Homo sapiens: one gene and its partners. Each later gene encodes a partner of the first gene's protein in a complex. Each region holds a gene or a part of one and is shown in the gene's direction. Other genes may lie near its edges.

The links.
Region 2: the proteins of ANXA2 (region 1) and S100A4 are in contact, whole or in part, in a crystal structure (PDB 5LPU), measured with the Homo sapiens proteins. Residues at the interface, in NP_001002857.1 of Homo sapiens: Leu13, Glu14, Pro21, Ser22, Ala23, Tyr24, Ser26, Val27, Lys28, Tyr30, Thr31, Asn32, Phe33, Glu36, Arg37, Leu40, Thr44, Gln69, Asp70, Phe73, Arg77, Arg78; in NP_002952.1 of Homo sapiens: Lys35 (codon at 7,287), Leu38 (codon at 7,296), Pro43 (codon at 7,311), Ser44 (codon at 7,314), Phe45 (codon at 7,317), Leu46 (codon at 7,320), Gly47 (codon at 7,323), Lys48 (codon at 8,056), Arg49 (codon at 8,059), Thr50 (codon at 8,062), Asp51 (codon at 8,065), Ala54 (codon at 8,074), Phe55 (codon at 8,077), Lys57 (codon at 8,083), Leu58 (codon at 8,086), Asn61 (codon at 8,095), Leu62 (codon at 8,098), Gln73 (codon at 8,131), Phe78 (codon at 8,146), Cys81 (codon at 8,155), Ile82 (codon at 8,158), Met84 (codon at 8,164), Met85 (codon at 8,167), Glu88 (codon at 8,176), Phe89 (codon at 8,179), Phe93 (codon at 8,191).
Region 3: the proteins of ANXA2 (region 1) and S100A10 are in contact, whole or in part, in a crystal structure (PDB 4FTG), measured with the Homo sapiens proteins. Residues at the interface, in NP_001002857.1 of Homo sapiens: Val4, Glu6, Ile7, Leu8, Lys10, Leu11, Ser12, Leu13; in NP_002957.1 of Homo sapiens: Phe39, Gly41, Phe42, Asn45, Gln46, Ala51, Lys54, Ile55, Leu79, Ala82, Cys83, Tyr86, Phe87, Met91.

The regions. Positions count from the first base shown.
Region 1 is NC_000015.10:60,394,963-60,405,397, reverse strand, and holds the start of ANXA2 (annexin A2), read left to right. Parts: upstream 1-7,411; 5' UTR 7,412-7,455; exon of another isoform or gene 7,456-7,484; coding exon of another isoform or gene 7,485-7,527; intron 7,528-8,059; exon of another isoform or gene 8,060-8,140; intron 8,141-8,970; exon of another isoform or gene 8,971-10,435. UniProt on the Homo sapiens protein: Calcium-regulated membrane-binding protein whose affinity for calcium is greatly enhanced by anionic phospholipids. It binds two calcium ions with high affinity. May be involved in heat-stress response.
Region 2 is NC_000001.11:153,541,650-153,551,978, reverse strand, and holds S100A4 (protein S100-A4), read left to right. Parts: upstream 1-6,172; 5' UTR 6,173-6,226; exon of another isoform or gene 6,227-6,237; intron 6,238-6,460; exon of another isoform or gene 6,461-6,509; intron 6,510-7,169; 5' UTR 7,170-7,184; coding exon 7,185-7,325; intron 7,326-8,055; coding exon 8,056-8,220; 3' UTR 8,221-8,358; downstream 8,359-10,329. Other genes in the region: S100A3 (protein S100-A3), read left to right, coding at 3,494-3,634, 4,133-4,297; S100A5 (protein S100-A5), read left to right, coding at 8,718-8,739. UniProt on the Homo sapiens protein: Calcium-binding protein that plays a role in various cellular processes including motility, angiogenesis, cell differentiation, apoptosis, and autophagy.
Region 3 is NC_000001.11:151,989,756-152,000,314, reverse strand, and holds the start of S100A10 (protein S100-A10), read left to right. Parts: upstream 1-6,455; 5' UTR 6,456-6,563; intron 6,564-10,559. UniProt on the Homo sapiens protein: Because S100A10 induces the dimerization of ANXA2/p36, it may function as a regulator of protein phosphorylation in that the ANXA2 monomer is the preferred target (in vitro) of tyrosine-specific kinase.

The DNA.
Region 1 (10,435 bases):
AAATACCATCAAAAAGATTCAAGTTTTCCCCAAAGCCTGGCATGACCTGTCATAATCTTAAGTGTAAGAAGACAGCCCTTCTTTTCGCTGGCTATATGTCTTTTTTTTTTCAACTCTTTTTAAAACTATAGAAGGTGTCTCTATTAACTGTTAACAAAAATCAAACAATGCAAACAAGCATATGTAGTAAAGGTGAACACTCTCCTGAACAAATACTTTTCCCAAAGCTGACCAATATCACTTTGGTGTACATACTTCCATATATTTACATATGTGCTTACATGAACCTACTTATGCAGACATATATGAATATACACATAAATGTGTGAATACACATAAATATTAACATAAATAGAATCAATTTAGTCATATTATTCTGTTTGACTTTTTTTTTTTTGGCTGTAAGTTTATTCAATGCAAAATAATCCTCTCCAATTTTACTGAGATGGCTGACCATGTCCACGACCAAATCTGCCTCTAAACTGGAATTCGGTTGCTGACCCACTCCCAGCATCGGCTTTCTTGTCAGCACCAGGGAGCACAGCATTCCATCTGTAGGTATCCCTGTTGGCTTCCCCTCTTGTGAGTCTTGCAGGTCACTCACCCTCCAGACCTTTAGGCCGAGGCCTGCCAGTCTCTGGACGGCTGTGGCATAGGGTGGCAGGCACAATCTCCGGGGGCAGATGAAGGTAATCACGGAGATGGTGGATACCCTCATTGGTAAGGTACCAGTAGAAATGTCTCCAGGCAAACTGTTCCTTCATGTAGCCTCGGGACTTGAGAGACTGCATGGCCTTCATGACATGAAGGTTGGGCACATTCTTGTCTGCCAACTCTGGCTGCTTAGGCGTGTAGACATCCTTCTTGGCCACCATGGCTCCCTCCTTAAAAAGGAGTTCATAAATGGCAATCCGGTTCTTCTTAGGCATCAACATTTCGGCGGCTGTAGCGTCTGGGGCCGGGGCTGGAAAAAAAGGAGACTTTTTTTTTTTTTTGAGACGGAGTTTTTCGCTCTTGTTGCCCAGGCTGGAGTGCAGTGGCGCAATCTCGGCTCACCGCAACCTCCGCCTCCCGGGTTCAAGCGATTCTCCTGCCTCAGTCTCCCAAGCAGTTAGGACAGTATTTTTCATGAAATAAAATATTTTGAGTGAATATGAAAACACACAAAAACATAGCTGCATTTTGAATGCTTTTATCTTTATTAAGGGTCTACTGAATGTATTTTGGGTGTTTTGAATTTTTTAACTTTGAAGACTAATTCCATTTTTTAACTTTGAAGACTAATTCAAAGTTAAAAAAAATTCAAAACACCCAAAATACTTTCAATAGACACTTAATGAAGATAAAAACATTCAAAATGCAGCTATGTTTTTGTGTGTTTTCATGTTCACTCAAAATATTTTATTTCATGAAAAATACTGTCCTATTTTGAATAGGCTCTATGGCTAAGAAATACGTATTGTATTGCAGAATTAGGGTTTTTTTTCTATTGATAACAGACACTTAGCAGCTAAATATTTGTATTTTCTACAAAATTAGATGGAAAAATGCTGTTGGAAGAAACAATAGGCTGATAGGGTTTGAAATATTCATTCTCTGACATGCCAATGTATAAATGCAGTAAAATGTGCTGAGTTAAGAATAAGATGCTTACACCTCAGGAAGCATCCCAATATTCCAGTGGGTTAATATAGGAATGATCTTGACAGAGTGGGCATCTGTAGCCAAATCAGTTTTCATAATGTTTTATACATCATATCGTAACTTAGCAATCCAGCAAGACACAGTTTTGCACTTACATTCTGCTTGTTCTTTCATTTAGCACTATATTTTGGAAATCTGTCCATGTCAGAACATGTTGATCTACTCCATTCCTTTCAGCAGCTTCATTCCACTGAACACATACTCTAAAATTAATTTAATTTAGCCTCATTGATGGCCACCTAGGGTGTTTCAATCTTAAAATGCTGATATAAATGTCCTTATACATATATTGTTATGGTCACGTAGAGCTCTCTCTTCAAGATAGCTTTCTTGAAGCAACATCACTGCATCAAAGGGCATGAGTATTTTAAGTATTGATAGATACTGACAAATTGCCCTCCCACCGATAATGTCTGAGAATTCCCATTTTGCCCATTTTCACCACACTGAATACTATACATTTTAATTTTTGCCAGGTGAGTTTAAGTATGAACAAAGGCAAGGTAATGCGTTTATGGAGAAAAATCTGATAGTAACAGGTACTGGGTAAGATAATGTCAATGCAAAGAGGAAACATCCAAATGCCTGTCCCCAAGAAGCTCCTGCCTAGTTGCTGAGACCAACAAATTAAAAAATAACAATGCGAGGTGACAATTGCAAGAGGAGAGGTATATTTTTAAAATGCCAAGAGAAGTAGTCAAATCTGCCTGAAGGGCTTGGGAAAGCCTTTGCTCTGCAGTAGAAAATAATATTTACTCTGAGGCTTGATGGATGAGGCAAAGTTCACCACTGAGGAAAGCAGGAAAGGGCATTCCAGCAGGAAAACAGGATGGAGGAAGGTACAAAGCATGAATGAGCCTGGCCTGTCCAGCAGTGGCACATGGAGCGGTGAAGAGTGAAGATGTGGGGGAATGAGGCTGCCCAGGTAGGTCAGAGCCCTGCTGGGAAGAGTTTCTGGAGAGGGGTCATATAATCAGAATTATGTCTCAGAAAGAGAATTCTGGCTGTCTCAGAGAATGAACTGAGGTCAAAAATGTCTGTTACAGCTGAGAAAGAGACATTGAAGTCACTGCAGATTTTTCCCTGGAAATGCCTCCAAACAAAATAGACATTGTGGTTTGTCCATACCAAGAGTACTCTGTGTGGTTTGGGTCATGACACGTGAATTCAACAAGGATTTATTGAGGTCTTACTATGCGTTCAGCAAGGCCAGCTGCTGCAAAGACTAAAAAAGCCAATGAAATAACTATGGCTTTTTTCATCACCTACAATATACCAGACATTCTTTATACATTTTTTAATCTTTTTTTTTTTTTTTGAGACGGAGTCTCACTCTGTTGCCAGGCTGGAATGCAGTGGCATAATCCTGGCTCACTGCAACCTCCGCCTCCCAGGTTCAAGCGATTCTCCTCCCTCAGCCTTCTGAGTAGCTGAGATTACAGGCACGCGCTACCAAGCCCAGCTAATTTTTGTATTTTTAGTAGAGACAGGGTTTCACCATGTTGGCCAGGATGGTCTGAATCTCTTGACCTTGTGATCCACCCGCCTTGGCCTTCCGAAGTGCTGGGATTACAGGTGTGAGCCACCACGCCCGGCAAAAACTTCTTTTTAAAGACTCCAAGAAAGATTTAATGTGGTACTTCGAAGACGATCTCAGGGCTTCTAAGAATCTTAAGTGCATTGTCCCACTGCAGCCTGACATGTAAAGTAGAGAGAGATCTATTTAAAAAAAAAAAAATGAATGTGAATCTTGGAACATGGAATTAAACCTCAGCAAGATTTATATAAATAAAGTTTTTGAGAAAATTGTATATAAATCTTGGAGCATGGTGTGAACCTTAATAAGATATGGAAAATCTACATGGTTTTTAAGATACTTGTATTAATGAAACAACTGCCAGCTTAAACCAGAAAAAGTGCAAAATGAAAAGAAGTTTCTAGACCTTTCAGTTTCTCCTGGCATGAATGAAGCAGACTGAGAGAACTGCTCAGCTACAAATATGGGCCATTCTTTTTTTTTTTTTTTTTCTTGAGACGGAGTCTCGCTCTGTCACCCATGCTGGAGTGCAGTGGTGCGATCTCAGCTCACTGCAACCTCCCCCTCCTGGGTTCAAGCCATTCTCCTGCTGCTCAGCCTCCCGAGTAGCTGGGACTACAGGCGCCCGCCACCACGCCCAGCTTAATTTTTTGTATTTTTAGTAGAAATGAGGTTTCACCATGTTGGTCAGGCTGGTCTTGATCTCCTGACCTCATGACCTGCCCTCCTCAGCCTCCCAAAGTGCTGGGATTACAGGCGTGAGCCACCATGCCTGGCCTGGGCCATTCTTAAGAAAAGGAAATACATCTTAAAGGGAGGAGCCTAGATATCAGAGGGCAAAACCAAAAACTTGAGTAGGGCAATGGATTAAAACAAGGATCAGCAAACTACAGCCCATAGGGCAAATCCAGCCTATTGCTTGTTTTTGCACAGCCTGTGAGCCAAGAGGCCTGGCAGCTTCAGCTTTTGCTTCTAGAAGGCTGGCTGCCATGACTACCGTGGTGTAGCAAAAGAGGAGAACCTGGAGGATGTAAGACCAAGGAAGAGAAAGGCCCAGCCTGCTCTTTGTCATTCTAGCAATCCCAGCTCAGGCGCCAGACGAATGAAGCTGCTTTCAATCTTCCAACCCCAACTAAGCTACCCAACCCAACATGCTGTGGAGGAGCACCAAGCTGTCCCCACTGGGTGTCCTGCTTAAATTGCAGAATTACAAGCAAGTAAATGGTTATGTTTAACCACTAAGTTTATGGGGATAATTTGTTATACTGCAAAGGTAACTGATACGAGGGCCTTGGGTGCATTATTTAATCCCTGGACTGGGCAGGAGATTTTATTTGGACTCCAATTTCTTCATATGTAAAAATCAAGAGCCGGGTATAGTAATTCACGCCTGTAATCCTAGAACTTTGGGAGGCTAAGGTAGGCAGATCACTTGAGCCCAGAAGTTCGGGACCAGCCTGAGCAGCATAGCAAGACTTTGTCGTCTCTACAAATAATAGAAAAATTAGCCAGGCTTGGTGGCGTGGGCCTGTGGTCCCAGCTACTCAAGAGGCTGAGAGGAGAGGATTTCTTGAGCCTCCGCAGTCAAGGCTGCGGTGAGCCCTAATCATGCCATGCGTTCCAGCCTGGGTGACAGTGTGAGATCTCAACTAAAAGATATAAGAATAATAATAGTAAAAATCAAGGATAGGGCAATTTAATCTCTAGGGTCCCTCCCTGCTTTAACATTCTATTATTCAGTGAATAATTGTATTTTATCATTCTATCACATTTAGTGAGTGCCTATCATTGCTAGCTAGGCGCTAGTAGGTGTTGAGTGCAGCAGATGAAGTGTGAACAAAACAAAGTCAAGCACTTAGAGAGCAATATGGACAACAGCAGACAATCTGAGGGCTGATGTAAACATTCTCCTCAACCAGGGGGGAAAATAGAGTCTTCTGACTAATAAAAGATCTTTTATACTGGAAGAACTGGCCTCACATTCCTCAGAAATAGCAAACTATGACTTCTAATAGCTTCATTTTTATGATAACATCAGTGCACATTTCTTTAGCATGATGCAAAGACTGGTGATTGTACAAATCTATAGAAGTTAGAATTTGTGGCATGCCCAAGATGAGCACAAAACTCTTTTGGACATTTGATGGCTTTTATATATTCCACATGATTTGAATTAAATTTTATCTTCTGTAAAGGGCCTATCACAGCACGATTAGGAGTAAGAGACTGTGGAACCTATCTTGAGATACACAGAAGGGAGGCTGAATCGTGCCCAATATTACTGTCTGCCTGTGTTCCCCTAACCTTCCAAAATGTTCACACAAAGTAAGCAGATAAACATTGTTTCTGACTTTGAAGCTTTCAGGCTAAATTGAAGAGCTATAAATGTAAATCAGCAATTGTACCCAAAGTGTTGCTTGATTTTCTATTTGGCTCTGTGGTAGGGCCCATCGCGTATAATTCCTCGTGAAAGCGCTGGGTAACAGAAAGCTTTGGGCGGGTTAAAAGACCTCAGCTGTGGCCGACTTTGCCTGTGTCACTCTATGCGAGTGGGCAGAGCACTGAATGTCTGTTGGCCTTGCTATCATTCTCTGATTCCCAGGAGTGAATTGACGCTCAAATGGAAAGTAAAAATGGATGTTAAGATAAATGGGAGATTGAAACACAGAATCATCAAAACCAGGAAAAAGAGCTGCAGGAAGTAGTGTGCAAGGAGGGGTTTAAAAAACGCAGCCAGAGATCCTCGGGATTCTCAGCGTCGCTTTCCTGTTAGTTTGAGGTTCGAATACAGTATTTGCGTCGTCTCACATACAACAAATAGGTGTCTGCCTGCACGTTGCCAACGTGACTCTTGGAAGAAAAGCGAGAAGCAGCAAAACCGAGCAAGGGAGTTGGCTAAACGGCTGCAAGAAACACACACACACACACACACACACACACACACACGGAAGAAAAGCGAGAAACAGCAAAACCGAGCAAGAGAGTTGGCTAAACGGCTGCAAGAAACACACACACACACACACACACACGGAAGAAAAGTGAGAAACAGCAAAACCGAGCAAGGGAGTTGGCTAACTGGCTGCAAGAAACTCTCTATCTCACTCTCTCTCTCTCTCTCTGTGCTGCAAGAAACTCTCTCTCTCTCTCTCTCTCTCTCTCTCTCGGAAGAAAAGCGAGTAACAGCAACACCGAGCAAGGGAGTTGGCTAAACGGCTGCAAGAAACACACACACACACACACACACACCACACACGCACACACACACCCCAGCAGTCATGAAAGAAGGAGAGGAAAGTTCTTTGTTGAAACTCCGGGTTCGAAACACACACACACACACACACACACACACACACACACACACACACACACACACGAAACTCCGGGTTCAAAGCTATGGGCCCCACCCCGCTCAGGACTGCCTGCTACGAGGCCGCGCAGAGATGCCCCAGGCGCGGAGAGAAGCGGAGCACAGCCGTGCTAGGGACAGGGGCGCCACCCTGGGCGGGACTGAGGTGGGATCCTGGCTCCCGGCTTTGGCCTCCCAGCCCAGGCTCGGGGCTTCCTGGCCCTCGGAGGCCGGGGCGGGCCAGGCTTTGCAGCACAGGGCGAATCTCCCTCCCTCCCCGGGCGCCCCCCGGGAACTGGCGGCCAGAGGTTAAGCTGACATGTTTGCAGACGGTAATGGGGCGCTGGATGCCAACAGCCCCAGCTCAGGGGAGTCCAGATTTATGTTTCTTGGAACAATTCTTTCCTCCATTGCATTAACGCCAAAAAAAAAAAAAAAAAAAAAAAAACACTTAATCAAGCCCAGAGTCTACTACTAAAGTCTTGTTAATTTATTAACCCAAGCCGAGGCTGAGAGCTCGACGTGGCACTTAAGAAGTAAAATGAGGAAAGGAGGAAGAAACGGGGTCCCTGTGGGCCTCGGGGCAGCCTCGGCCGGGCTTTCTCGGAGGGCAGGGCCAGGGGCGCTGGGGCCGCTCCCGCGTGGCGCGGCTCGGGAGCGTTCCAGGGCGCGGTCCCTGCGGGCCGGCGGGCCGGGGTGAGTCACCCCTGACTTGGGGTGGGAGCGGGCCGTGTAAGGGGGAGGCGGGGCGGGGCGGGGCGGGCCTCGCCTCGCCTAGGGAGGATGTGGCGGGTATAAAAGCCCCACCCAGGCCAGCCGGCTCTGCTCAGCATTTGGGGACGCTCTCAGCTCTCGGCGCACGGCCCAGGTAAGCGGGGCGCGCCCTGCCCGCCCGCGATGGGCCGCCAGCTAGCGGGGTGTGGAGACGCTGGGAAGAAGGGTACGGCCTGGCAGGGAGGCCCCGGCAACTGGCCCCGGAGGCCGTCGGGGGCAGGGGGCTGAAGGGACGGCCGGCACTGGAGAGTCTTTGGGGAGGGGGCTCAGGGACAAGGTGTTTGGGGCAGGGGTGAGGGGCCACCGGCCCTCGGGCCGGGAGGGTGCAGGGCAGAGGTGGTGGGGGGTCGGGCTTCTCTAAGAAGCCCTAGCGGGAGCGGGGCGAGGCGGCGTGGGGAGAGGGGCGGAGGGAGGCCCCGCATTCCAGACGCGCCAGGCGCCGCCGAGGCAGGGCGTGGCCGCCCAGGGAGCCGCAGGTCCCCGGCGCAGCAGTAGCAAGTGGGCTTTCCACTGCCCTCTAGAAAGTGCCCCCCATCTGCTCTAAGTTACTGTACTCGAAACAAACGCGCGCTTGTGGAGTTGAACCGACCAGCAGGAGGGAAGTAGCGGGGGAAGACGAGAGGGGGGAGTGTGAGTAGGCACCCCTCAGCCCCCCATAAAAGAAGACATTAAAACGTCAGTTATTCCCCTTGCTCTAGGTTATCTTGTAGCATAGCAACTTCGGATTTCACTCTACCCGGAGAGTTTCCCGCTTGGTTGAACACATTGGCCTCAGGAAGGTAGTGTCCCCCATGATTCTGTGGGGAGGGTTGTCCTGTTACTCGCCATGATGTGACAATGAGTCAGGAACTGAGAGTAGAGAGAAGGGCGTGGCCCCGGGGCCTCTCCCTTCTGGCCGCTCTGTGCAGCTGGCCCCACTGCTGGTGTGGAGGGCTTGGGTTCCATCAGCCGGCTGTTGAGAAGAAGGAGGGGAACACAGATAAGTTTCCTCATCTGGGAAGGTGGCTTAAGGATGCCTATTCTTACCACCACCCAGAGTTATTGGAGATTTCAAAAAACACAGTCATTAGGTAATAAATGTGTAAAGTACACAAAAAACAAAGTGCTGTGCAAATGCAAAGTGTCATTTTTGTAGTAAGATTGCCGTTTTAAAGCTGTGGGTGTTCTGAGTGCGTGTGTAAAAGAGCAGTGGCCTCATGGGTGCACGCTGGGCCATTACCAAGAACCTTAAGTTGTTGGTGTGCAAAGGCCTGGGCCCCAGACTGTACTGATGGATTCTGTTCACACGTGTGTGCTACTGTGCCTGTCTGGAACTTGGTGACTTGGAATGCAGAATGCACTTTCCCACTGAAACAGTGTTGCAGAAGGTGCTGACGTTCCCAGGCTAGCCCTGAAAGACCTTTTTAACATGCACTGCCTGATTATGGGATTGGTGGTGGGGAGGTGGAGGGTAGTGAGGGGCAATGTGTGTGTAGGAAGACTAAATCACTGAAATATTTTTCTGGAACTTTTTTTAGCTTTAAGGTTGACACTGAGTAAATTATTTTAATTGGAAAATTATGTCTTTGCCCCTGTTCCACTTTCTTTTTTCCACCTTCCACCTCCTTAGAGACGCTCTTCTGGCTCTTCCGTGACGCATTACAACAGCCATCCAGGCCGGTCCAGTTACGCTGCATTCCTTCCTCCTTCCCATTTCGGCGGACCTGCATCCAGCTAGAGACTAGCAGATTGAATCGATATTCATTAAGTTAGGAATGGTTGGTGGTCCTAAGAGCCTCAGCAACCGAGAGGAGTCTTGTTATTTAAAAAACAACGATACTGGGCGTGGTCGTGGGCCTGTAGTCCCAGCTGCTCAAGCTAGTGGATCTCTTGAGTCCAAGGCCAATGTGAGCAACATAGCAAGACCCAGTCTCAAAAAATAAATACATAATAATAATAAAAAACCCTCGTTCACCTAAACAGATCTATAATTTATAGAATGTAAAGCAGCAATATTCAGGCAATATTAAGGAAGATTTTTGGTAAGACTGGGGCAGCAGAGGTGCCCTTGATGGGCAAGGGCCAGGAGTGTTAACACAGTCCTGCTTAGTAATTTCTTCCCTTCTTCCAAGTCTGTCGATTATCTAAAGGTCAAGGGTTTGTCCAAAAATGTCCCTTGCATCTGCAGTGGAAGGATGTGACATGTATGTGCATTTTTACAATTGGAGGTTTGTGATTTGGAGACCGTTTAGATTTTGTAATTTCCCGCAGTGCCAACTAGACTGCCTGTGGTAAATGCCCAGGAAATATTGCTGACTCACTGACTTTGATTAGGAGCTCAGTCTTGCACTGGAGTCTCAATATTTAGCATCTTGTGTCTTTGAGCTATTAAACTATGGTATTGATTGACATTAGGCTCGCAGTCATGGCCGTTAGTTTCCTGGCTAATTTCTGATTTAAGTAGTTTTCCTGGCAAAGTAGATGTGCTTCTATAATTGCTATTGATTTTGAGGGCTGTAGGCTCTTCCTACACCACTGGGCCTAGAATCTGGCACTAATGCATTGTCTGGAGCCTTTGTTCTCACCCTTCGCTTGTGCAGAGCCTGGAGCCTGCGGAGACATTTTTCATTAAAGGAGAGCGGGATTGTCACAAAAGGAGTCTCAGGCTCTAGTGGGCTGCTTTAAACAACCATTTATTCCACAAAATATTAATTACCTACTGTGTTCCACTCATAGTTATGAGCACTAGGGATACAGCAGTGAACAAAACAGACCCCCGCCAAAAATAAAATCCCTGCTCTTTAGACCTTAAATCTGGCGGAGAGAGAAGGAAAAGAGACAAAATAAGTGAATTGTTGGATTTTAAACTTTATATTTTCCCAAATTAATACTAGTTTCTAAACTTGGTGGGAGTTCATTTCCCCTTTAATCCAGCTGTTCCACAGACCTAAACTTCACATTTTACCTACCTCGGGGAAGTTTTGCTTAAAATTATGGTGTCTTAAGCTGCCTTCCAGATTCAATTGTGAGAATTAAATAGAAATGGAATGTTCCTCTTTTTTTTCACATGAGAATCCTCTTCACTTGCCCTGGTG
Region 2 (10,329 bases), on another chromosome or scaffold:
AGAGATGGGGTTTCACCATGTTGCCAGGCTGGTCTCGAACTCCTGACCTCAGGTGATCTGCTCGCCTTGGCCTCCCAAATTGCTGGTATTATAGGCGTGAGCCACTGCGCCCGGCCTCACCCATCTCTTGATTAACATTTATCAAGCCCTTGCCATGTGCTGGGCACTATTTACTCTATGAACTTTATATGTATTAGCTTATTTAAACCCCGCACAAACCTATGAGGTAGTTACTATTATCACCCTCCATCACTGACAGGTGAGTAAAATGAAGCCCCGAGAGCAGAGGTAGGCTGCTTAAGGGAGGTGGCTGGGGGCAGAGCTGGGATATCATAGGTGGGAATAATTAAGCTCGACCTAGAGCTGAATTAATTGCTGGTGCACTCTGGCCCCCCCTTCTGCTGCGTGACTGTCTCTTGTTCTCTGCCCCCTGCTCCCCATACTTCCATTAAAAAGCCCATATAAAACAGGGCTATGTAGCCCATTATAAAACAGGGCTAATCACAGCTCCTCTTTTCCTTCCCTCCTCTATTGCTCACTCCCCTCCTCAACAGGGCTGAGTCTCCAAGGAGAGGACGGCACAGGCAAGGCTTGGGTGCTGGGGGCCGAGGGCGAGGTCGAAGGTGTCACTGGCGCTCTGGCTGCCTGCACGGGCAGGAAGGCTTCTTTGCCGGCCTGGGAGTCAATCTCCTTCCTCTTTTCCCTCTCACGCTCTTCTAGGTTTTGGGTTCTCTTCCTATAAAACAGGGAGGAGTTTCTCAGGCTCTGGTGTGAGGGAGAGAATAGAGAAGTTACATGAAAGTATGTCTGTTTCTGGTAATATGGTGGTCTGTGCCCACTTCAGCTTAAAAACAACAACAAATGCTGCATAGAATTAAATCTTTTCAAAGCATTGAAGAGACCACAAGGCAGTAAGAAATGAGTAGGCCAAAATCTAAGTCAAAGCAGAATCTGTACTGGGGCCCCCCGTGCCCTGAGGTCATTGGCCAAGCCAAGCCGAACCTGAGCTTTGATCCTGATGGTTTGGGGAGTGAGGAAGACAGAAGTGGAAGCCCAGTTCTCACCCCAAGAGGGGACACAAATGGATGACCCTCCCATGATGCTGAGACCCCAAAAGGCTACACACTCAAGCTAAAAGCCAGAGGAAATCCCATCCTGCCACCCACAAGACTTCAAGGAAAGTTGTTTTGGTGCTGAGCAGAGCAGGGGAAGAAGGAAAACAGCCCTTAAGGAGCTCCAGCCACTGGCCAGCCTTCATGTGACTCTAGCCCAAATTCATTCCCATCACCTGGGGTGGAAGGGCCAGAAATCTCAAGCTTAGACTCTGGAAGTGCCCCTGGGAGGAACACACCTCCTTCCTGTGCCTCAAAGACATCCCACCTGATGATTTCCCCCCTGGGAAGCAAGCAGTTCACAGCCAAAAGCTGGGATCTGGTCAGGCAAGTTCAGACTTCTCGTCTGTAAAGGGGAGGCTTAGCCACGTGCTCTCCAAGTTCTACCCGGAATAGAGATTTGTAGGGGTGCAACCTGAGCGAGGCAGAAGTGTGTCCCCACTTGGTATTCTGGGGGCCTCTGCAGAGTGAAGAGATGGGGCTGTGATGTGATGGATAAGCCAGACTGTCTCCTCCAACTGAGCTGGAAGGACTTGGCAGGAGACTGTCCCCTGTTCCCAACTCTGGGGGAGGGCAGATGGGGAATGAAAGGGGAGTGGTGTCTGAGCCCAGACTGGCCTTTGATGTGTGCGTGGATAGGTGGGCAGGTGGGGCCTGTAATGGGTCTGCTGAGGGATCCCTGAGGGCATCCTCAGTGTTGACCTACTTGTGTCCCCCATAATTGCTTCCTTCCTTTCTTGGGAGGCTACAAATAGTGACGCCCTGTCTCTAAGCTCCTACAGCTGAAACGCCAGCACCAGTGGTGAGTGCCAGCTGCTTGGGTCCTGCCCTGGGTTGAGTGTCAGGGCAGTTTGGGGACCCCCAGTAGCCAGCCTGACTCCTGACCCAGGGTCTGGCATTGGAAGCAGAGAGATGACCACAGGCGGGCCTGACACGGGGAGGGAAGTCAGATATAGTGGACGCAGAGGTTTCCTTACACAGTGAGGGGCTGTTGGGGAAGTTTGGGCAGGGAGGTGTGTAGAGCTAAGGTCTGCCTTGGGGTGGGAGCACTGGGCTCAAGGCTCTGGTCTTCCCCTTGATCAGGCCCCTCACCTGCTCCTTGCCTCCTTGCTTCACCTCTGAGTCTCCTCATTTCTGAGGATCATGGCCCTTTCCTCTCCTGGGAACCTGGACACCTTGCTCTAATCCTGGGGTGTTTACAATGAATTAAATCCTGGCAGTGCTTGGCACTCCCCACTCCCCTTCCCCTACTTTCCTGCCAGCCACAACCATGCCAGCCATTTGCTCCCAGCAGGGGGCCCAGCAGTGGGCAAATCTTCAGGGAGAGTCTTGGCCCTGGCCGCCCTGTGCTGCAGGACTCTTGTCCCGTGGGGGAATCAGGAGTGAGTCACTGGGCTAGCATGGAAAAAACTCTTGCCTTCCTGGCTGCCTTCGGGTTTTCCCAGGCTGGAGGCATCATCCCAGAAGGGCGGTGGAAGGGGACAGTGGAAGTGGGGGGAGGTGAGCAATTCCAGGAAGGGCTTCCCCTCCAATAGAACAGAGTATCCCTATACAGAACCTCCCTGCTCAAAACCCCCAGGGGTCGGGAGGGTAACCTCAGGGGAGGCCAGTCTCAGATTGGTAAACACCCGAACTGGTCAACTCTCAAGAGACCATCTGGTTCAGGTTCCTGACTGGGCCAGCGAGGTGAGATGAACCCCAACTTACAGATCAGGCCCCGCCCCTGAGACCCAGAGAGACAAATGGCTCACCAAGGTTGCACAGCTGGCGACAGGCAGAGAGGATCCCACAAGTTTTTCTTCTGGGTGCAGCTTCCTCGAGTTCAGGGCAGGAGGCAGGGTGAGGGCAGTGGTGGTGAGGCTGTGGGGGCGCCTCTCAGACCTGCCCCTCCCTGCTAAGGCCTAGCTTCTCCAAGGGCTGAGGGCAGAGAAGCACAGGGCCAGGCTCTCCTTGTGCAAGTTCCTGCAGGGAGGGAGGCTTCTAGGGCATCTCATGGGCTGGGGCAGACTGGGACCGAGCCATCCCTGGGTGTTGGGGATAAGAAGAGGTGGCAGATAATCTGAGAGTGCTTAAGGAGCCCCACGGTGGGGTGTGTGGGTGGTGGGGTAGGATGCTGTCTCTCTGAGGAGTTTACAGCGATGTTGGGGCAATGAGACCTCTACATGGGGAAATAACAACAGGACAGCAGGGGGATAAATTAGGAGGGGCTGGTGTGGTCTGGGAGGGCTACTCAGAGGAGGGGGAGACTGCGGGGCCTGAAGCCTGATGGAGGTTAAGATGGGTCTGGGAACAGTCTCTGAGAAACACAGAGGGCAGAGGTGAGCTGGGGGGCTGGCCTGGAACTCTGCTGTGAGCCACACCCTTGTTCTGTGACAGTGAGGATGGCCAGGCCTCTGGAGCAGGCGGTAGCTGCCATCGTGTGCACCTTCCAGGAATACGCAGGGCGCTGTGGGGACAAATACAAGCTCTGCCAGGCGGAGCTCAAGGAGCTGCTGCAGAAGGAGCTGGCCACCTGGACCCCGGTGAGCAGTCAGAGTGTCCGTCCCCTCCTCCTCCGGGGGGAGGCACTGCCTAGACTCTGCAAAGAGAGACCTGGGGACAACAAGCATGAGCACAGGACAGCAAGGGAGGGGGCTGGATTGTGAGGAGGGAGTGGGAGGGGGAGAACTGACACAGCAGAAACCTCAGCTTCCTCATCTGTAAAATGGGATGACAATCATCCCTGCTGCCTTGCAGAGCTGTTGAGAGGACTGAGTGAGAGCACCATGAAGAATGCCTAACACTTGGTAGGCACTCAGTAGCAAATAGTAGGTGCTCGATTAATAATCTGAGAGGACAGATTTGGGAGGGGATTGCAACGAGTGCATTATCAGAGCAGGGAGGTTGAAGTCGGCCCTCAGAAGGGTGTAGTTTGGGGTGGGGTGGGTCCACTTGGGAGAGGAAGGAGGGAGGTGGCGTGTGAGGCTGTTCTGCCCTCCTCATCCTACTCCCTTACCTCTCCCAACCCTTCCCTTGCACAGACTGAGTTTCGGGAATGTGACTACAACAAATTCATGAGTGTTCTGGACACCAACAAGGACTGCGAGGTGGACTTTGTGGAGTATGTGCGCTCACTTGCCTGCCTCTGTCTCTACTGCCACGAGTACTTCAAGGACTGCCCCTCAGAGCCCCCCTGCTCCCAGTAGCCTCTGCTCCAGGGGGTGCGCTGGCTGTCGGGGGCTGGGCATGTCTCCCACACCCCCTCCTACCCTCTCTCCTGTACCCCTTTCAATCTGGACTTGCCCAGGTCTTCTGCGATCAGTTAACCCATTTTACCTAGGAGGCCCAGAGATGTGAGGGCTCCTTCCTCAGGATGCCCAGCGAATGAGGGGTAGAGCCACTCTGGGGCCCAGCCTGCCTGCCGCACCCCTGTGGCCTCCCTTGTGGATGGGAGGAGGCGGGATCTGCTCTGAGGCCCTCGAGGCTCAGCAGAGCGTGCACCAATGAGACCACGATGGGAAAGGGCCTATTTAACTCCTAATAAAAAACTGGCATCAGCTTGGTTTTGTTTGGTTCTTCTCTGAGGACGCGTCTCCTGAGCTCTTTGCTCCTCTCTGGCCTTTTCCACTGCGGGAAGGCAGCTGAGGGCAGGGGCAGGGTGCTCCCTGAGGGAAGTTGCAGACCCTGCAGAAATGCAGTGGCCTCCAGGGTCCAGCAGGAGGGCGTGGGGACAAAACAAGGACCCCTGTCCTCCCTTCCTCTCTCTCTTTCTTTGGGATCTTTGAGAGAGGACTGCCTGAGTTTCCCCTGGGACTCAGTGCTCATGGTTGGAGGAGGGTGGGGCCGTGGGTGCAGTGGGGGTGTTTGTTCCCTGCCTCGGGCTGTGGGAGCCCAGAGAGCAGCACTAATGGGATTAGGGTGTCTGAGGTGTTTCTCCCAGCCAGGAAGGGGTGCTCTGTATGGAGGGGTAAGGGAATAACTTGAGCTAGCCCCTATCCCTGAAGCCGCAGCCCCCTGAGGGCCTTAACCCCCTACTTCTAACCCTCACTGGGTTTGTAGCCCACCCTGAGAGGTTGACCCGAATTATAACTCCCCTATTTCATGCCATTTCACCTCTAACTCTCCACCCCAACCTGGATTCTTCATTCCTGACACTCATCCCAACTTTAAATGGCCCCTCCTGATACCCTCTCCGAACCTGAGATCTATCCGTGAGCCCCCACGCCTCACTGCCACTCCACTCCATCACTACCTCACCCAGGACCTTTCCCACTGACGTTCCTGAGGTGGTCCCAGAGCCTCCTTTGGGTGTGAGCCTGTTCCCCTCCAGATCCCCCCGCCCCGACCCTGAGCCTTACTTGGCATGGCAGACAGTACCGGGCATGGGGATCCCCACCCCAGTTTTTGTTTCTGAATCTTTATTTTTTTAAGAGACAAGGTCCTCTGTGTTGCTCAGGCTGGAGAGCAGTGGCTTGAGCATAGCCAACTGCAGTCTCGAACTCCTGGGCTCAAATGATCCTCCTGTCTCAGCTTCCTGACTAGCTGGGACTACAGGCTACAGCCATGCTGCCCAGCTAATTAAAAAAAAAAATTGTTTTTCCTTTTTATAGAGACAGAAGTCTCTCTATGTTGCCTAGGCTGGTCTTGAACTCCTGGCCTCAGGCGATCCTCCCATCTCCCCCCTAGCTTTTGTGTCACCACATTTCCAGGGCAATCTCCCACCTGTCACCCACCACCCCCTGCATCTCCTTTCCTAGGTCCCCATGGGACTACTCCCTGTCCCCCATGCTCCAGGCACAGGCTGCCCCTTCCTCCACCTCTCTAAAACTCAGGCTGAGCTATGTACACTGGGTGGTGCCCATCTCATCCAGTCCCCTGCTAGTAACCGCTAGGGCTTACCCGTTACCCACGGGTGCCCACCTGGGAACAGGAGGCTTGGTTCCACGGCTGGGCTGGTGGAGGGTGCTGTGGCACTTACCGCATCAGCCCACAGCAGGAAGGCAGTATCCGCTCTCCCCTGTCCCCTGCTATGGGCAGGGCCTGGCTGGGGTATAAATAGGTCAGACCTCTGGGCCGTCCCCATTCTTCCCCTCTCTACAACCCTCTCTCCTCAGCGCTTCTTCTTTCTTGGTTTGGTGAGTTGTGTTGGCCTGACTGGCATGCAAGGGGTGTCAGAGGCCAGGGCTGGGGAAGGAGAAGGGGAGGCTGGTGGGGGCCAGATGTGCTAAAGAGATCCAGATGTGAGATTCTGATGTGGAACTCTGGGTGGATTGTGTGCGTGGGTGTGCATGGCACACACACACATGCACGTAAGACGGAGGAAAAAACAAACAGAAAAGTGAGCAAGTGACTGAATTTGAGCTCTCCAGGTGCTTCTGAGATGTGGGCTTGCACACGCTGTTGCTATAGTACGTGTTGGTATGTATGTGCCTGTGGGTATCTGCACTGGCTCATGTTTGCTGGGTTGCGCACTCGGGAGCAGGAAGCAAAGGAAAGGCAGAAGGCAACTGTGGGCCTTTGTCTGGTGGTGTGCCCCATGAGCCTCTGCCCTGCACGCAGCAGCCCAGCTCGAGAAGGTGCATGGCCTCTGCAGCTTCTCTTCCAACCCTTGCCTCTGCCACCTCACTTTGCCCCTCCCCATGCTGAGAGCTAAGCGGCTGTGCTGGTTTTTTCCACTGCAGGCCCCTGGGCAGGCCTCCAGCAGCCACACCCAGTTCTGGGAGGGAAAAGAATGGCAAGGGCGGGGCCTTTGTGGCTGAGCTGTGGGAGTGGATAGACTGAGTGAGGGGTGGAAAAAATGCTGTTGTTGAGGCAAGGCCTGGGAGGCCCTGGGAGTTTGCTGCCCGAATCTCCAGAGCTTGCGCAGCGGATCTTGCAAATGTTCACTGCCCAGAGCATGTGTTCCCCACTGTGCACACCCTCCCAGCCAGGTGCGGGGGCCCACTGCTCTGGGCTCCCCCAGGGAGGGAGCAGAGTCTCGCCAAGTGCTCCTGGAGGGATGGGAGTGGAGCCTGGCATTCTGAACACATCTCTGAGGGGTGGGATTAATAAGACGGTCTCTGTGCCTCCTGCTCCCAGATCCTGACTGCTGTCATGGCGTGCCCTCTGGAGAAGGCCCTGGATGTGATGGTGTCCACCTTCCACAAGTACTCGGGCAAAGAGGGTGACAAGTTCAAGCTCAACAAGTCAGAACTAAAGGAGCTGCTGACCCGGGAGCTGCCCAGCTTCTTGGGGGTGAGTGGGTAGTGCCTGAGTGAGTCCCCACGTGGGGCATTTCCCACAGAGGAGGGCAGCAGTCTTGCTCTAGAGCATTAGCTACAGAGGGCATCTATCAGTGGGGTGGCTGCCTGGGGTGGAAACACATTGAACACCACCACTCACTGCCTGGCCCCATGCTGAAAGAGGGCTGAGAATGAATGGGTCAGACACTGCCAGGTGCTTTGCACAACTTAACTGAAGGGAAGACTAAGCTCAGAGTGCTAAGTAACTTCCCAAGGTGGTCAGTGTACACAACTGCCATCCGGACCGGGACTGTCTGACTCTTGCCATCACTCCAACAGTGGACACTGTTTGAGTTTCTATTTGGCTTGTAGATGTGAAGACACAGATGTGGAGATGATCACAGGCCTGCAGACGTTCCCTTCAAACAATAACAATGTATATTTGTATCAAACATAACACAGTTTATATATTGTTTTCATGACTATTACTACCTCATGGGATTATTAGAACAACCTTGGGTGAAAATGTAGTGGTCCCGTCATTTTTCCATTGCACCAGGTACTCAGACTTCCTTATCCAAGGAGCACCTTCTCCACCCTAGCTTAGCCTTGAGGGTTGGAGTTCCAAACTGGACCTCCCAAAGGAGCCTCCCTGAACTCTGGTCTGGGAGTAGAAACTGGGTCTGGTCCTGGCTCCACCCACTGGGCTTCTGTTTTCTATCTGTAGCCTCTTCTCCCTCCAGAAAAGGACAGATGAAGCTGCTTTCCAGAAGCTGATGAGCAACTTGGACAGCAACAGGGACAACGAGGTGGACTTCCAAGAGTACTGTGTCTTCCTGTCCTGCATCGCCATGATGTGTAACGAATTCTTTGAAGGCTTCCCAGATAAGCAGCCCAGGAAGAAATGAAAACTCCTCTGATGTGGTTGGGGGGTCTGCCAGCTGGGGCCCTCCCTGTCGCCAGTGGGCACTTTTTTTTTTCCACCCTGGCTCCTTCAGACACGTGCTTGATGCTGAGCAAGTTCAATAAAGATTCTTGGAAGTTTTGAGGCTGATGGTTTGAGAGACTCTGGGGGCGTGGGTTGGGGACTGAGGGATATGTTGTGGGGTGGTGGTGGGGAGAGCTGGGAGTTGAGCTGAAGTTTTATGGACAGCAGACCAGTGAAGTTAGGGGAGGGATGCAGGGTGACTAACAGTGTGTGTGCACAGGCAATAGAGTTCACTCGGTGTGGTCAAAGCCGAGAAGGGGACCCCTCACCACCCCCCTGCCAAGGTTTGGAAGGTCCCAGCTGTGGGATCTCAGCCAGCCCACTTACCCCTCCCACCTCTCTCCAACCTTGCCTCTGGCAGGATCTTGAACCGAGGCTGGAATTGAAGGTCATATCTGTTCCTGGTTGGGGTCTGGAATGGAGTTTGGGTGTCCTGGGAGTAAGTCGGAGGGAAAAGAATAAGGCTGAGTTGCAGGGAGGAAGTATTTAGGCGAGAGTGGGATGGGGAGGAGGGCTGGCACTCAGTGCTGACGTTGACAGTCCAGGCCCTGTCCTGCCACCCACTTCCAGATCATTGGCTTCAAACCACAGGGATGGATTAATCCTTTCCTGTGCGTGGTAGGATCAGGGAGGGCAATGTGGAGGGAGACCCGCTGTTTGCAGCAGCATGAGAATATAGGCATTCTCGAATCCACCGTCTCTGCCATAAAGGTCCCTGGATGAGATCTGTTATCAGTCAGGAATCAAGCTCCTTCAGAGAAGGACAGGGGACCTCAGAAGAGATGAGTGGGGGTCAGTGGCTGGAGTGGGAGTGAGGCAAATGGTGGGAAGGTGACCATAGTTTTGGAGACAAAATTCCACATATATGATCTGACAAATGAAATTGAGATTATTTTCCCCCCAGAAAATATAAGGCATGATATTGCTTCCCCTTAGGTAGGTTCAAGGCCAGTGGCTCCAGGGTGCAGTGGTGGGTTGAGGTTAGACTTCAAGGCCATGTCTGGGTGACTCAGGGATCTTTTAGGAAGAGGTGCATGGAGGTCAGGTGCAGAGGCTGGAGGGCTTTGTCCCACTGACCTCCTCTTGAGGGTCCTCTTTCCTCTCATCACATGGGGCTTTTCTCTCAGGTTTCAGAGGAGTGGGGCAGGTGACTCAGATGTTCCCGCAGGGTTTGAATACAGAGACTTGGGAGGAATTTCAGTTCAGGAGAAAGTCTGCTGCCTTCCGCTGCCCTCTCCATCCACCCTCCCTGGGAGCGCCCTCCCTGGGGCCTCCACCCAGGTCACGCTCTCCTTCAGAGATGCCTACTGCATAGCAACCAATCCCTGCTGCCTCTCCAATCTTGCCAGCTGGGGGTGGGGTGGAGTGGGGAGCAGTGGGGAGGCCCCCCAGGCTGGGGTGGGACTGCAGCAGTGATAGGTACTACACCCTGAGCCCAGGTCTGTTCTTGGACTGGTGGTAGAAGTATGTTGTTCTACTGTGGTAGAACGATGTCTGAGTGTCTCCTGGGATACAGGAAACTCTCCCTGGCCCCTACTTCCTCCTTGACTGCAGCCTGAACCTGAACCCCCCTCCCCAATCCACAACCTCTACCCCAGTGCTGGGCCTTAGCCCTTCGCTGGACACCTTCCCTATTCCTGATTCTCAGTCCTCCATGCCAAGAGTCTCCGACGAGCCTTTCCTGTGAAGAGCAGTGAGGCCTAGAAGAAATCGTTCATTTAAAAGCCCTTTAAAAACCTCTGGGCCCATATTAGCTCATGACCTTGACCATATCCTTCGCAGAAAATATCTTCCTCCACTGATCCCCATCTCAAGGGCTGTCTTCTCTACTCCTGGAGTGGGTGGCAGGATGGGTGGGAGGGGCCCGATGTGGAGAGCTTCCTAGGACACGGGGAGATGGTGCCCTGTGTTTGTCCCACACTTCTGAGGTTTTCTTTCCAGGACAGCCTGGTTTCCCTTCTTCGGCTTATTGTTCCATCAGATTTCAGATTTTGAGTTCTGATTTTTGGTCAGAAGAGTAAAGTTTCTG
Region 3 (10,559 bases), on another chromosome or scaffold:
TCTCCAGGACCCATAACATGCCAGGAATTAGTAGGTACACAGTAAATATTTGATAGATTATAATTGTTAGAATTTGCAGCTCACCTGTAGGAGAAGACAGGTGGTTTTCGACCCCAATCTAACAGCTATCCTATTTTTAAAAACAAATTTAAAAAGCTACACTTCTTCAGCTTCTGCAGCTCCAAGAGATATGTTAGCACAGCAAGCACAGCCTTGGTGGAGTCCTCCCAGTACCCTAGACAGAAGTCTGCTGAAAGGCATTCACGAATCACACACACTAAAAACCCTGGGTGACAGAAGAGCCCTGTTTGGCTTCCTGACAACTGCCCCTCCACAGAGTGGGAGATCACACAGAGGAGGTGGGGATCTGCCTTCCAGAACCTGCTGCTTGCTGAGCTGGATGGCTTCAAGTTCATTAGATGGTTCAGTCTTTTCCATCATCCCAGAAGATAGGTGGAGACCCAGGTTCATAGTGGTGAAATGAATTGCCCAGAGCCATGCAGCTAATAATGCCCTTTTTCACATTCTTTAGCGGCTCTTATTACCTTAGGAAACTCCTTAGCAGAATATCTCAGGCACCCCAGGAAAGACACCTTCTCTCAAGACTCATCCCCATCCAAGACTCTAAAGGACGCTGCACTCTCCTCATGCAGAACAGCAGGTAGTTCCTGGCACAGACATAGTACCTCACAACTCCATCAGGCACATGCCTTTCCCTCCTGTCTGCCCCCACACAATGGGGCTTATTCCTACTTGTCCCTTAAAATCCACATAAATAAGTGAAAAAAGATAGGTCCTGATAGAAACATATCATAAGGAAACAAACATGAGGGCAGATATATTTATTCAAAAGTAGTCTCTGATATATAGTTAGCTTTGACAGTAAAAAATTAGAAACAACCGAAATGTTCAAAAAAATATGGGAAATGTTTAACAAATTATAGGATTTCCCTATTTAGGGGCTACTAATACAGCCATACCTGGGTTGGTTGGTTTGTCTTCCTTTTTGGATTGCCAGCAAAAAGTCTTGACCAGATCACTGTAAATCAGTGATTCTCAACTGAGGAGGCAGGAAGAAGTGCTAAGACTCCTTCCCAAGGTATTGCAATTGGTAGGTAAAGTTTATACAACTATGATTCATGCTGTTGACATGGTGTCTGGGCAGACAGAATGTTGAGCTGGGTTTTCACAGGTTTCCATGTGGTACAGGGCACAGCTTGATACACATCAAGAAACAATGACACTATGCATTTGCTAAGACCTGTGTGAACTTTGCTTCATAAGTATCTAAAAGAGTGACCAGGGCAGTAAGTAGTTCTGCTCAAACAATGACACTATGCTGAGGTGTCATCAGTATAATAGTGTAATTACTACACATGCAAATTAATCCTTTCAAATGTGCAGCCAAAAATACTAGCACTCAATACCAGCACTTTGTTAAGGTTATGCTGTAGCAAATAAACATTCAAATTCCAAGGTTCTTTCTCACCCACATAGCTAGTCCAATGAGGATGTTCCTGCTCAGCAAGTGATTTTCCTCCATACAGTGATTCAGGTACCCAGGCTCTTTCCAATTATGACTCTTCCATCCTTAGAGCCTTGGAGTCCTGTCAGGTGGAGAGAAAGAATATGGGAAAGTCACCTCTTTACTGCCTTGGCCTGCAAGTGACACATATCACTTCCAGTCCCATTGTGTTGGTGGCTAGTCACATAGTCCTACCTAGGGGTATGAGGTGGTAGAAATATAATCCCTAGCTGAGCGGCCAAAACTCTACACAATGAAAAGAGGAACACACATTTCTGGTAGATAGCCCACCTTCTGTGCCACAGCCACAAACCCAAAAAAGTTGAGGGTAATAGGATTTTGTGGCTGTGCCACATGGAGAAGTGGTAAAATTCCCAATACTGCCTCACTAGTGGATCAATCTCTCCAGCTCCCAACATTTTGTACATTGGAACCTACTTCAGCCCTGGTAGAAGATTTGAACATTGCTTTCTCATCATTTCAGAGACCACATGGATGGGGCCTCTGCTCTCATTCCTCCAGTGGCCATTCAGTTGGCTACCCTCCTGCTAAGACACTATCCTTGCTGGGCAGCTCAGGCTTAGGCACTGGTCCCTGATGCCATCAGTTTTCTCTAGGGAAGCAGAGCTGGCTTCACTGAATGCATGTAGTTGACAAGGTATAACTACTTCCTGGAGAAAGAACTGCCTGGGACCCCTTTTCCTAGAGAGACTATAAGCATGGCTGATACTTGAAGCTTTATGGACCTGCTAGTACACAGAGTCATTAAGAAACCACATGAGGCCAGGAAGAGCAAGGTGTGCTGACCATTTTCATCACTGTATTCCCAGTACTCAGCACAATGTTTTAGAAACCCTGCAGCATCCTCCTGGAGATGCACCCACTAGGGCCTTAGAGTTCTGCTGGCAGATTGGAGAAGAGAGAAAAAAGAAGACACAGTACAGTACAGTTGAACAGTTACTTGTCAAATAAAAAGGTGAAAAGAATGATTTAAATGAATAAACATATGATCTTGATAAATATTTAGTAACATAGGAAAGAGTAAGAACAAAAGGAAAAAGTATGGGACAAAAATAGAAACAGTCATGTGTCGCTTAATGATGAGGATACGTTCTGAGAAATGTGCCCTTACACGATTTCATCCTGCAATCATCATAGAATGTACTTGTACAAACCTAGATGGCATAGTCTACTACACAGCTAGGCTGTATGGTACAGTCGAGGACTCTGAGGCTACAACCCTGAATAGCATACTGTAGGCAATTGTACTACAATGGTAAGTATTTGTGTACCTAAACATGGAAAAAGTGTAGTAAAAATATGGTATAAAAGATTTAAAATGCTATACAAATAGGACACTTACCATGAATGGAACTTGCAGGACTGGAAGTTGCTCTGGGTGAGTCAGTGAGTAGTGAGTGAATGTGAGGGCCTAGGACATTACTGTACATTACTGTAGACTTTAGAAACACTGTACACTTAAGGCTACACTATGTTTAAAACAGTTTTTCTTTTATCAATGATAAATTAACCTAGCCAGATGCAGTGGCTAATGCCTATAATCCCAACACTTTGGGAGGCCAAGATGGGTGAATCACATGAGGCCAAGAGTTCGAGACCAGCCCGGTCAACATGGTGAAACCTCATCTCTACTAAAAAAAACAAAAATTAGCCAGGCGCTGTGGGACATGCCTGTAATCCCAGGTACTCGAGTGGCTGAGGGACAAGAAGCACTTGAACCCGGGAGGCGGAGGTTGCAGTGAACAGAGATCACACTGCTATGCTCTAGCCTGGGCGACAGAGGGAGCCCCTGTCTCAAAAAACCAAAATAATAATAACAAATTAACCTTAGATTACTGTAAATTTACGTTATAAACTTGGAAATTCCTTTTTCTTTCCTTTTTCTTTTTTTTTTTTTTTTTGAAATGGAGTCTCACTCTGTCTCCAGGCTGGAGTGCACTGCCACAATCTCGGCTCACTGCAACCTCCGCCTCCCGGGTTCAAGCGATTCTCCTGCCTCAGCCTCCCAAGCAGCTGGGAGTACAGGTGCGTGCCACCACGCCCGGCTAGTTCTTTCTCTGTAAGATGGGGTTTCACCACGTTGGCCAGGATGGTCTTGACCTGTTGACCTCGTGATCCGCCCGCCTCGGCCTCCCAAAGTGCTGGGATTACAGGTGTGAGCTACCACGCCCAGCCTAACTTGTAAATTCTTTAAATGTTTGACTCTTTTGTAATAACACTTAGCTTAAAGCACACATTATACAACTGTAGAAAATATTTTCTTTCTTTATATCCTTCTTATGTAAGTTTTTTCTATTTTTAAAATTTTTATTTTTTTTTAAGTTTTTTGTTAAAAACTAAGACACACACACACAAAAAAAAAAAAAAAAACTAAGACACAAACACACGTATTAGCCTAGACCTGCACAGGGTCAGGATCATCAATATAACTGTCTTTCACTTCCACATCTGGTCCCACTGAAAGGTCTCCAGGGCAAAAACACACATCTCCTGTGATAACAATGACTTCTTCTGGAATACCCCCTGAAAGACCTGCCTGAGGCTGTTTTTTAAACTTTTTTTTAAGTTTTACTGTTTTTTTAATAAGTAGAAGGAATACACTCTAAAATAATGATGAAAAGTATAGTGTAGTAAATACATAATGCAGTAACAGTCATTTATTACCATTATCAAGTATTGCATACTACACATAATTGGTATGTGCTATATTTTTATACAACTGGCAGCACAGTAGTTTGTTTACACCAGCATCACCACAAACACATGAGTAAAGTATTGCGCTAGACAGCTACAAGGTCACTAGGCAACTGGAATTTTTTTAGCTCTATTATAATCTTATGGAACCACTGCTGAATACATGATCCATCGTTGGCTCAAACACTGTTATGCAGTGAATGACTGTACTTAATTTTATAATCAGTATGATCACAATTATGCAAATATTTGTTACATATGCATAAAAAGACTAGAAATATGAAAATGTTTATCTTTGGCTCATGTATTTATAAATCATTTTTTATACATTGATATATTTTCCAAGCCTTCTAAGAATGGAATCTTTGTACAGATTAAAAAGTTACAATAAGTGTTATTGTTGTTTTTAAATTTCTACCCAATGTTGCTTCCTGCAGAAATTATTCTGTGACCACTCCAAGAGGACTTGGAAGCCCCTCCTCAGTGTTCTCCTAGTATCCAATAGTATCCTCTACCATTCACTAAGCACACTGGATTTTAATTGTTTGCTTATCTAACGCCCAATACTTGGAACTCTTCAGAGAAAGAGACTGATTCTCTAATCCCTGAATTCCCAGGCCTACCACATACACTAAAGCACTCCTAAGGTCTGTGGACCAGATGAAGAAATCAGATGAGTAGGGGTACGCAAACCCAGGCATTCCCATTCTAAACCCAGTCGCATTGCAATCCCTGCAACAAAAGGGATCCGAGATTTCCTCCACTGGTGACTGTGACCTGGGGACTGGGAAGTACTGTATACAGGAAGATCTTGAAGAGCTGTCCCCTTGAATAGTCAGCACCAGGGTTGCACGGAAAGTAATAGCTGAAATCCAAGTTGGGTTTTCCTGGCAACAGCCAATATTAGTCAGAGGTGGCACTTGGAGGATTCCCCAGGTCTGCTCATTCCTTTAGGATCATTCATTCCTCCCAAGGCCTCCCTTGGGAACAAAGGAAAACCCCAGAGTTTGGGATTGGGCTCTTTTCCACCAACAGCTGCTAGTAGTTTGTATTTAACCCTGAGTCACAATTAAAATAAAAGAGGGCGGGCGGGGGAGGGGCGAGGAGTTGGTAAGCATCCCCTAGGAAACACTTAGGTTTTCTCTAAATTTATTCCAGAAAATTCTTCTAAAGGACTTTTCAAGGACCACAGCATACTGCCTTGGAAACTTAGTTTTTAACCTTTTTCTTTTCTTTTTTTCTTTTTTCTTTTTTTTTTTTTTTTTTGAGACAGAGTCTCACTCTGTCACCCAGGCTGGAGTGCAGTGGTGCGATCTCGGCTCACTGCAACCTCTGTCTCCCAGGTTCAAGCGATTCTCATGCCTCAGTCTCCTGGGATTACAGGCGCGCATCACCACTCCCGGCTAATTTTTGTATCAGTAGAGACAAGGTTTCACCATGTTGGCTAAGCTGGTGTTGAACTCCTGACCTGAGGTGATCCGCCCGCCTCGGCCTCCCAAAGTGTTGGGATTACAGGCGTGAGCCACCGCGCCCGGCCAGTTTTTAACACTATTAGCCACACTGAAACTGAACTATTGATCAAGTGACGCCACACAAAGGGGTAAATCCCCTGTTCAACAAAGGGTTTGTGACGCCCCTGGGTGCTGACAAGCCAAACCGCACCCTCCCTGCGGCACCTCGCGGGCCGGTGGGGCGGGAAGCCCGGCTTCTGGGGAGGTGCCGCCCCTCCACTGGCGCAGGCCGCCGAGACCCCCAGACGGACCTCCTAGGGCTAATCTGATAGTGCCTCTGAGGTCGATAGGACTCCACGTGCCACTCCCTGCAGGGTCATCCAGCAAGTAATTCCTAGACCCGTAGGTGGCCGCAGAGCCGGTTACCTCTGGTTCTGCGCCAGCGTGCCCCACCCGCAGGACGGCCGGGTTCTTTGATTTGTACACTTTCTAAAACCAAACCCGAGAGGAAGGGCAGGCTCAGGGTGGGGATGCCCTGAAATATTCGAGAGCAGGACCGTTTCTACTGAAGAGAAGTTTACAAGAACGCTCTGTCTGGGGCGGGCGAGGCCTCTGCGAGGCGGGTCCGGGAGCGAGGGCAGGGCGTGGGCCGCGCGCCCGGGGTCGGGGGAGTCGGGGGCAGGAAGAGGGGGAGGAGACAGGGCTGGGGGAGCGCCCTGCCGAGCGCCCGCCAGGCTCCTCCCGCTCCCGCGCCGCCTCCCTCTACCCACCCGCCGCACGTACTAAGGAAGGCGCACAGCCCGCCGCGCTCGCCTCTCCGCCCCGCGTCCAGCTCGCCCAGCTCGCCCAGCGTCCGCCGCGCCTCGGCCAAGGTGAGCTCCGCCCGGCCCACGCGCCCCTCCTGGGTAGTCCCCAGGCCCGGACCTGCTGCCCGGGGAAAACCCTGCACCCGGCTTCGCGGGGCGTCCGGAGCACCGCGGGGCTGGGCGGGGAGCGGCTGGTGGGGAATCCGCTGCTCAGTGCTCCGGGCCACACCCAAACGAGGCCAGCAGCGCCCCTCCCCGGCCCGGGCGCGGCCGCCCCCAGACCCACGCGGACCAGAGGAGGGGGCACTTGTTCTTTAGGAGGGGACCGTGGTATTGGTGCGCCTGAACCTCTTCCCTCCTCCCTTTATGTTTGCGTTGCTTTACTCCCACCTTTCCTACTTTCCCACTCGTCTCTCGGGTTACCGAATCCCTCCTACACGCCCCTGCCCTGGCTGGCGTGTTTCTTGGTGGGTTCCGCTCGCAGGCCGGGTCTGCATGTTCGTAGCCTGCTCCCGGCTGTACCGCCCAAGTAGGCGCGGGTAGGACGAGTAGGCAGCTGGGGCGTCCCTTCCGTAACCCTTAGTCCGTCGGCCAAACAGGCGTTTCTGGTCGGGGCTTCCTGTTGTCTGCTCGACGGAAAGGGTCTTCCTGCTGAGGGAGGGAGGTCCACTTGTTTTCTTTCTACAGCAGTTTGGCTGGGGTTTGTGGGAGAGGGCCCTGTGTGACGTGGTTTCTCTACTGAAAGGGTTCCCTTGCTGTCTTAATAAGTGGAACCAGAAAGAGATGGAGGAAGAGCAGGCTTGATGAAGGATCTTCCAATCATAGATTAATTTGGCCCGGTGCAGTGAAACAGACAGACGTGCCTTTGGTACTTGGTTCACCACCTGTGCTTTGGCCGAAGGAATGGCGCTGCCCCTAGCCGTGGACACTGCTGCCTGTCCAGCCTCAGTCCAGCTCTGCCTAAGTGAAACCAGGAGCTCTGCCTTGTTGGCTGGGGTGGAATGCAGAGCGCTCCAAGCCAGGCCAGCACAGGGGAGCCCTAAGCCAGATTCTGGGATGCATTAAGCCCACCCCGTTTTCTGCCCCCACCCAGTTCCGTCTCTGCGGGAGCTTCTGCAGGGCGTGGTTAGCACAAAGGGCTCCAGGATTCTCCCAGTGGTCTGAGGCCTGTGACTCAGCTGTGAGACCATGTGGGTGTGGCCGGTTGCAGATACTCTCGGTGGATGGTTTGGACAGAACACTCCCTGAAGGAAAAGGAGAACTGTGCCATCTCAGAGGGCATTTTCCAAGAGGAAGTGAGTCACACCTGGTCTGGCTGCCAGTCTGCAGGAGAGGTTTCTCGACTGAACTGCCGGTGAGGGCAGTAATTAGATCTGCAGGGCCTTGGCGAGACCGCTTTTCGTTATCGGCCAGTATGCGCCTGGCAGCCTGCCTCAGCCTTACTTGGGAGGTAGCTTTTCCCGCTAAGAGGTTTGCAGTTGTTGCGGATATTTTTCCCCAGAAGCTTGAGTTTCAGTCTCCAGGAATGGAGTTTTATGTTGTGCGTTTTAGGTGAGGCCAGGCTCATGGAAACACCCAGTCGGTGATCTTTGCCTCCAACATGTTTCAGCAAATTGCAAAAGATAATGCCAGGGGTTGGAGTGGGAATGAGTTCATATAACTTATTGGAAGTTTCTTCATCGGCCCTGCCCCCACAGATTCCTATCCAGTTTCTCTTTAATCATCCCTTCCAAATGGTGTATTTGTTCCTTCACAGCCAGAGGATAGTTTCTTCACTGTGGCCCTTGATCCACCATTTGGAGTTTCTTATCTAGGTTCTTACAATTTTTTTGGTCTACTGGGCATGAAGCAATTTTTGGGTCTTACCCTGCTTTCTGGGTGATGCTCTTCCTAGCTTTTCTCCGACACATCATATAGGCCCCTTTCCTCCCGTGTGCTGGCCAGCCTCCTAAGCAGCCACTCCAGTGAGGTCAGGGTGGAGCTGAGACTGTGTGCCTCCCTGCTTTCTACTGACAGTTCAAAAAATGTGACTTTTGTAGAGCACAACCCACTTGGTATACCCTTGGACACAGTCCAGTCTTTTAAAGCGTAAAGTTGAGAGAAACAATGGAATTCTTTCAGGATTATAATGTATAAATTAGCACTCAAAGTGCTGAGAAAGCTGGACTAAAATTTTAACATCTTAAGTTTCTCATTTTTCTGGGGACTCAACAAATTTAGGAATCCACATCAAAAGCAAAAAGAAAGAATGTACTTCTTTTAAACAATTTTCAGCACTTTCTATCCCTTTACTAAATAAATACCACCCATCCTACCAAAGGATTTAACTAAAAGCAGTTTTGACAGTAGCTATGTTGGCTGATTAGGCTGATGCCTAAGCATTCTTTAAGGAAAAATTGATGTAGTTGGTTAGATTGAAGGAGGTTTCTTCCAAGTTCTTTCTTCCTATTGAATTGCATCTGAAACGTTCCTTTGCTGCCCAGTTCTTTAGTGGGCAAGTTTTAGTTGGTGAGAGGTGAGAGAGACAGCCTGGATCCAGATCCATTGCTTCAACTCATTTTTTCTGAATTCCCTTCAGAGATCAAATTTAAGAATGCCTTCTGGGTTCAATTTTAAAAACTCCAAAATTTCTAAAGCAAAAGGAAGGAAACCTCAAACATATTTTAAATAACAGATGTTTGTTTTTACTGACACCCTGCCGTTTATTTTCTGGGTGGGCTGTAAGAAAACTAGGGTATGGACAAGACACAGAGGAGCAAAGCAAGTCCGACTCACTCTGCAGAAGTGTCCTCTTTGAAACTGCAGCCGGGATCTGGGCATAGGTCCAAAGCAAACATTTGAGATTTTTCAGGAGCAGACACTTTTCTGAGGAGGACTCCTGCTTGTCTGCTACTCGCAGGACAACCAAAATACATCATTATCAATTTCTTAACAATTCATCGAGCAGGCTCTATGAGGGCTGGGGCACTGGCTATTGGGACCCTGCTCAAAAAACCTGCAACCTAGTGAGGAAAGAAACAGAAACACAAATAACTAGAATTCAGGCCAAATGCTTTAATAGTATTCCATTAGCTGGTGAACTCCTCAAAGGCAAGCACCATGGAGAGCTTTGTGTGTGTGTGCATGTGTGTATGTGTGTGTGAACACCCTCATGCCTAACACCATGTCTGGGACATTCAAAGTAGGTGCTCAGGGAGGGAGAACCAAAAATGGAAAATTGAATTCCTCCTAAGGTAACTAAATTTGTGGAGTCCAGAATTGTTTTCCATAGAGAAAACTATGCAGAGAAAGATGTCTCCGCCTCCCTTCTTAAGACCTGTTGCTCAGACAAACATGTAGAGGGCATGTATAGGCATCAGATTAGAATACTTCAATAAAAGGTGAGTGGACAGCAAGGCTGTTATTATCCTGTGGAGCTCAGCAGTGAGATAGCAGCACTAGAAAAGCAAAAAGTAGAAGATGGGATGAATGAAACACGAGAAAATAGCAAGTGTTAGAAGAGAAGGAGCACAGTCATGTCATTCTGACTAGACCTGTTTAGCAGGACACATATTTTTCCTTTTGCGTATGGAATGTGCACTCCTGTGTACTCTATCTACTGTTCCGTTCATAGTTGAACACTTTTGGGGCCCCTTTCCTGGCCCTTCCCAGCTCTCACATCGTCCTCCTGAGCTCTGAGCTACAAGGCTTTCAGCCTAGTCCTGGGTAATCACACCTGCACCTCAGCTACTGCCCAAGGGATTGTGTGGTTCATTTATGCACATAACAGTTATATAGTGCTCCATGAATAAAAGCAGAATAATTTGTAGTTCTTAATCAAGAGAAGCTTAAATCTCAGGCAGACAAGTAAACAATTAAATGAAATTGAATGTTTCAGGTGCAAGAGTACGTTATTGGGGATAGAGAGGACACTGCAGCCCCTCAGCCCCAGCCCCAAGGCCCTCCTGTCAAAATGTGTCTAACCAGGATGCAGGAAGCCCACATCTGTCCAGGAATAGAGCTTGCAGAGTGGCTACGTGAGGGTGGAAATGCCAGATTGAAGTCCCTGAAGAACTTCAGTTT